Linked DNA regions of Homo sapiens. The protein of the gene in region 1 purifies or fractionates together with the protein of each later gene. This does not show direct contact. Each region holds a gene or a part of one and is shown on either strand. Other genes may lie near its edges. The genes, in order: CACNA2D3 and PAGE2B.

What was found.
Region 2: the proteins of CACNA2D3 (region 1) and PAGE2B purify together in Homo sapiens (affinity purification with mass spectrometry; one large-scale study listed by BioGRID and IntAct). This does not show direct contact.

The regions. Positions count from the first base shown.
Region 1 is NC_000003.12:55,072,642-55,075,225, forward strand, and holds the end of CACNA2D3 (voltage-dependent calcium channel subunit alpha-2/delta-3 precursor), read left to right. Parts: intron 1-803; coding exon 804-916; intron 917-1,135; coding exon 1,136-1,218; intron 1,219-1,472; coding exon 1,473-1,565; 3' UTR 1,566-1,916; downstream 1,917-2,584. UniProt on the Homo sapiens protein: The alpha-2/delta subunit of voltage-dependent calcium channels regulates calcium current density and activation/inactivation kinetics of the calcium channel.
Region 2 is NC_000023.11:55,073,213-55,077,143, forward strand, and holds the start of PAGE2B (putative G antigen family E member 3), read left to right. Parts: upstream 1-1,817; 5' UTR 1,818-1,902; exon of another isoform or gene 1,903-2,044; intron 2,045-2,807; exon of another isoform or gene 2,808-2,821; coding exon of another isoform or gene 2,822-2,829; coding exon 2,830-2,913; intron 2,914-3,356; coding exon 3,357-3,465; intron 3,466-3,931.

The DNA.
Region 1 (2,584 bases):
GGTTCTGGAAGAATATGAGATTTTGATCCCTCATTTGTTCCTCCAAAGAAAGAGTCAGTAGTGTTTTGTGTTTGTTAAAGGATTATTTTATAGTGTCTTTCTTTGTCACTTCACCATGTTGGGCAATGTGAGAAGGAGGCACTGCCAAGCTTGTTTAAGTTGGACTAACTATCCTGATGGATCAGAAGGTCAGAGCAGATATACAGCCTTGGCTCTTTCTTATAGAACTTGGGCTCTGGGAAGTGTGGGACCTCATAAATGACTAGCATTAATCTCATTCAAAACACTGTTCCTGTATACTGGGCAGACGTTGTGCAAAGCAGTATAAGGAAGGCTCTAAGAAGTTCACTATCTCTTTTGCCATTGGTATGACATAGTTTCAGTCTATCGTTGAGGGAAGGAGGAGAGAAAACGCCACTTAGAGGAACATCAAATGTAACTTGGGGTAATGTTTAGGCTCTGGGAGAAGGAAATTAGGCTTTGAAAGTCTGACCTCTTAAACCTTGGGAACAGGTGATTCAGCCAACTCTGACTCTTGTGTTTTGTACATACAGCACTTCAGTCTTTCCAAGGTGAGTTGTATGAGCCGCATGTCGTCATAGCTATTGTTGTTTTCCTAGTGAAGCTAGGTATTTGTAAGTGAAGAGCCTCATGGAGAAAGAAGGTAACATTAGTAGTAAAATAGTCTCCAAAATTTGCTTTACAAAATATGGTAGTTGCTACCACCCAGGAGAGAAGTCTTCCTCATGGCTCTTTAATTGACGGATGGTAAATGACTGCCTCGCTACCTCTTGTTCCAACAGGTCCTTTGTCATCCAGCAAATCCCAAGCAGCAACCTGTTCATGGTGGTGGTGGACAGCAGCTGCCTCTGTGAATCTGTGGCCCCCATCACCATGGCACCCATTGAAATCAGGTATATCCTTTTGTGTGCAGGTCCACTCACTACCACGGAAACCAGTAAGGGGTATCAGTGGTAAGGAAACCTGGGGGAGAAATATTAGAGAAGGAAAATTACATCCTTTCCACTGTTGGAGAGAGAGAGTAGTTAAGAGAGTTGTCATTGCCAAATTTTGACCTCTGAAATGCAGAGTAGAAAAAAGCAATCCTTGGAAACATGCCTTAACTACAGTCAACATAATGAATCCCTTAAGTGTGAACGTCTAAAGGCCCAGAAGATCAGAAGGCGCCCAGAATCTTGTCATGGCTTCCATCCTGAGGTAAGTCTGAGAACTGTTCCTGTTTCCTTTTCCCATCAGAATCACCACGAGAGTCTCACACTGGTCAAAGAACTACAGCTGAAAAGTTCACTCATGAGAAAATAATCCCTTTCATTCAGTAAACTGAATCTGCACCATCATCTAGGTCCCAGAAGACTTCGTTCTTACGTTAGAGAGGGGGAGAGAGGTCTGGGGAAAGTTGAAGGTGTCCTGGAGTCTATTTCCGTCTAACCAACCCCTGCCTTTCCCCATAGGAGAATGCAAGGGAGTGTGGGGGTGCGCCGAGTCTCCAAGCCCAGACAGTCCTCCTTCTGCTCCCTCTGCTTTTGATGCTCTTCTCAAGGTGACACTGACTGAGATGTTCTCTTACTGACTGAGATGTTCTCTTGGCATGCTAAATCATGGATAAACTGTGAACCAAAATATGGTGCAACATACGAGACATGAATATAGTCCAACCATCAGCATCTCATCATGATTTTAAACTGTGCGTGATATAAACTCTTAAAGATATGTTGACAAAAAGTTATCTATCATCTTTTTACTTTGCCAGTCATGCAAATGTGAGTTTGCCACATGATAATCACCCTTCATCAGAAATGGGACCGCAAGTGGTAGGCAGTGTCCCTTCTGCTTGAAACCTATTGAAACCAATTTAAAACTGTGTACTTTTTAAATAAAGTATATTAAAATCATAATCTCCGTGTTTGGATTTTATCATCACTTTATTGCTAAGAACACCAACTGAAAACAATGCATGGGGGAAAAGGTCCCCATTCCAGAAACCAGGAAATGATGGCTGTTGGCAGAGCCTTTGTTCTAAAGCAGATTCTAGGCACATATTTAACAACTGTTTTTAGATGCTTCACTCACTCTCAGTTATAAAAATATTTATAGAAGTATATCAAAATATCATCTACATGGGAAGAGTTTATTACATAGAACCGTGAATTTTGTTGAACTAAACTTCAATGAAAATCATAATTTGGATGCAAACACAAGCTTTCATCATATTCAAGTGGTGAATTATTTGGGAATAGAAATAAAGAAGTCATAAATCCTAGGAATTCGGTCTGAGGAGACTTGAAGGAGGAAAAGAACAATGATTACAAATTTGGCTTCTGGCTTTCCCCATAAACAAGATATGAAATTAGATCTCAAGTATGATGAGATGAAACTACCCAGACATGTAAGCAAGCATTTCTAAACGCTGGCTCTTGACCCAAAGAAAACAGATTTCACTGGATCATGGTTACTAAATAAAGTGAAATAATTTCCATGCCTAGGCAGAGTAGAGAATGCCTTACTTTATAGGACAGACGACATCTAAAAGTTATCCAGAGAATCCTACTTACTTACTTAAACT
Region 2 (3,931 bases), on another chromosome or scaffold:
GGGAATCTCTTGGTCTGCAGATTGCAAAAACTGTGGGAGAAGCGTAGTATCTGGGCCAGATAGCACAGTACCTGACAGCTTCCCTTGGCTGGGGGATGGAGATTCCTAACTCCTTACACTTCACGGGTAGGCGATGCCCCACCCTGCTTTTGCTCACCCTCCATGGGCTGCACCCACTGCCTAACCAGTCCCAATAAGATGAACTGGGTACCTCAGTTGGAAATGCAGAAAGTGCTTGCCTTCTGTGTTGGTCTCGCTGGGAGTTGCAGACCAAAGCTTTTCCTATTACGCCATCTTGCCAGATCCCCGCAACCATCCCATATGAATTTTAAAGTAGTTTTCTTCTAATTCCGTGAAGAATGTCATTGGTAGTTTAATAGCAACATCACTGAATCTATAAATTTCCCTGGTCAGTTTGGCCATTTTGAAAATATTGCTTCTTCCTGTTCACGAGCATGGAATGTTTTTCCATTTGTGTCATCTCTGATTTCTTTGGGCAGTGTTTTGTAGTTCTCATAGTGGAGATTGTTCTCCTCCCTAGTTAGCTGTATTCCTAGGTATTTTATTCTTTTTGTGGCAATTGTGAATGGGATTGTGTTTCTGATTTGGCTCTGTGCTTGAAGGTAGTTGGTGTACAGAAACACTCCTGGTTTTTGTACATTAATTTTGTATCTTGAAGCTTTCCTGAAGTTGTTTATAAGATCAAGGAGCTTTTGGGCAGAGATTCTGGGATTTTCTAGGTATAGAATCACATGGTTTCCAAACAGATTGTTTGACTTGTGTGAAAAACATAGTGGAGTAGAAGCAAACACGTGTCAGCAATGGAATAGAAAAATAAAAGTGCCCATGAATAAATTTAATTTGAATGTGAAGAACTAATATGAAGCAAATAACACAGTCATTGTGTGGGATATGTTAAAAGACTTGAGGAATTGAGGAGTGGCTTTTTTTTGATAGAGAGATTCTAAAATAGGAAGATGGCTATTGTCCCAGAGTTAACATGTAATATAAAAATAATAACTAGTATCTCAACAGGAATATTTTAGCACCTGATCAAATGATTCTGAAGTTCATCTGAAAGACCAACGTGTCAGAATTGATAGAAAAGGAGAAATCAATGAGGGAGGGCAAGCATTATTTCACATTTCAAATATAATTTAAGCTACAGCAATTAAAATAGTGTAGTAGTGGTACAGGTATAAACAACTCAATGGAAGAAAATTAAAAGAAGAGAGTTACATACAAAATTGAGTGGGGATGTAGGTGATGATAAAAGAGCCATTTCAAAACAGTGGGTGCAACAGGGATTCAACAAATAATGTTGAGTTCCTACCACTTTAATTTTGTCCAGATGGATCAAAGATTTTGAACGTACAATAATGCAACCAAAAACTATGAATGTCTTATATTGGAATGGGTTAGACAATTGCAAGCATGACAGCAAACTCGTGAAGGAGGCAAGAAAATGATTTATGGAAGCGTATATAAAACAGATATTAAAATATTTAAGATTTATTTCTATGATGGTGAAGTTTTCTGAAACACATTATTAGAGTAACCTGGGGCTCATATTCTCCAAAGCCACTGGAAGTGAAAGAAAGGGTGGGCGGGGGAAAAAGAAAAGTGCTTTGCAAGTTCATTTTCGTTGTCAGGAGCGCTGGTGGTTTAGGTTCTCCACAGACGCAGGAAAACATCAGTCACGAGGCGAATGTCCCAGTCAGTGTGCATGCTGCACAGACCTGTTGCTGCACTTGTCTGTTGTTACGCATGTCTGTTGCTACACGTGTCTGTTGTTGCGCATGCGCCTTGCTGCCCGCCTTCTGTCCACACACAGCTCTGCAAGGAGAGTGTCTTCATTCTTTCCGCCATCTTGATTCTTTGTCACTGACCGAGACTCAGCCGGTAGGTCCGCAGAGCGGTCTTCCTGGGAATTTAGTTGTGGGTGAATGTGTGGAGGAGCCAGCTGGCTTTGGACAGGTCCTGCGGCACAGTCCGTGGCTTCCGAGGGAAAAGGGCCTCGCGGTCGTCGTCCGGCCCCTCCCAGGTCGGGATGCCACCGTGGGACTTGTCGTCGTGGCTGGGCTGGGACGAGGGACGAGGGAGGAAGGTGGGCCACAGAGGGGAGGGATCGCGTGAAGATGGGGCGAGTGCTGGGGGTGCTGTTAGAGGTGTCTGAGTCTCGAAAACTCCTGGAACCCTCTGAGAGAGGACAGTTTCCAGACTCCTCGGTAGGGACGCGGGAAGAGACCATGTGGTCAGTAAGGAAGGGGCCTGGGAACTGGGAACGCTGTGGGCCGGTGACTGTGGCCCCGAGGTCTGTAGAGTGCCTGGCAGAGGTGTCCCGTGAGGAGCATAACGTTCACTCTGTTTCACAATTTCTCACCTCCGCCATGGACGCCATGGAAGGAATGGGCGAGGCTGTGCTTTCCAACAAGACTTGATTTTGAGAGAGGTGTGGGGGTGAAATGGGCCTAGCAAATCAGAGTGGGACAAAAGCAGTAGTCATTTCAGTTTCAATTCTCTGCCCTTTTTTCCCCCAAATGTCTTCATGATGGAGAGTCTAATTGTGAAACCAAAACGCAGAAATGTCCTCTGTCTTTTGCTATGGCGTTAAGGGGATTTCTATGCCTCTTCGACTATGATACAAACAAATCTGTCCTTAGTTTGATTGGAAAGCGTGGGTACTTATCAATGCTCTGTGAATTACGTTGAAAATATTTTCAAAATTAAAAAAATACAAATCACCATTTTGCCATGGAATGTTCATATATATAGCTAAGTTCTTATACACTTTTTCCAAATAACAGTATTCTATTTTCAGTGGGAAATATGAGTGAGCATGTGAGAACAAGATCCCAATCCTCAGAAAGAGGAAATGACCAAGAGTCTTCCCAGCCAGTTGGATCTGTGATTGTGAGTCCTTTAACATTTGATGTTTCCTATTAACACAATTTATTTTAAGAAATATTTTTGAGCTAGTGTACACGCACTGATACAGGTGTTCCATGCTGATAAAAAATGATGATGGCATCTCATGAAGGAAACGTTGGTTCAGGAATATTATATTCTGGTGTTACCTGTATGGATATGGATATTTCTCTCTCTCTCTCTCTCTATATATATATATGTGTGTGTGTGTGTATATGTATATATGTATATATGTATGTATGTATGTATATATGTATGTGTATATATGTATGTATATACGTATGTATGTATATATACATATATGTATATACATATATATGTGTTTATATATGTTGGAAAAATGTCTTTAGATGTGTGATTCGATGCACATATGCATTTGTGTATTTATATTATTGACTTTTTATTCACACACACACTTACACCCTTAGGTCCAGGAGCCCACTGAGGAAAAACGTCAAGAAGAGGAACCACCAACTGATAATCAGGGTATTGCACCTAGTGGGGAGATCGAAAATGAAGGAGCACCTGCCGTTCAAGGTGAAGGGAGAGTGGAGAATAATGCTTATGGGTGGTGGAGGTCTATTTATGCATTGTATTTTATGACATACCAGTAACAGGAGGACAGAAAGCATTAGGAAGGAATCTTAAACATTTCCTACTGCTGCTGTGTGGAGGGGTGGGACAAGGACGCATAAAAAGCCACTAAGCTTTCCTACCACTTTGACGGAGGCTTTTTATTGATTGGGTATTTTCATGGTTGCCATAAACCTTTTTCCAGAGCTCCTGTATGCTTTGTTCAGCCATTTTCTGTTTTTTGTTGCTGTGGAAGAATGGCAGCTTGCAGCTTCCTAGTCTGCCATCTGTGGACACGTCATGTATTTTTTAAGAAACTTTTTAACACACCTTTATTGATGCTTCCTCATACCACGTAATATACTAAGTGCTGGAGATGTCAGTGCCAAATTTTTGCCTAAAGCTCATAGTCTAGTCAGATTGACTCAAA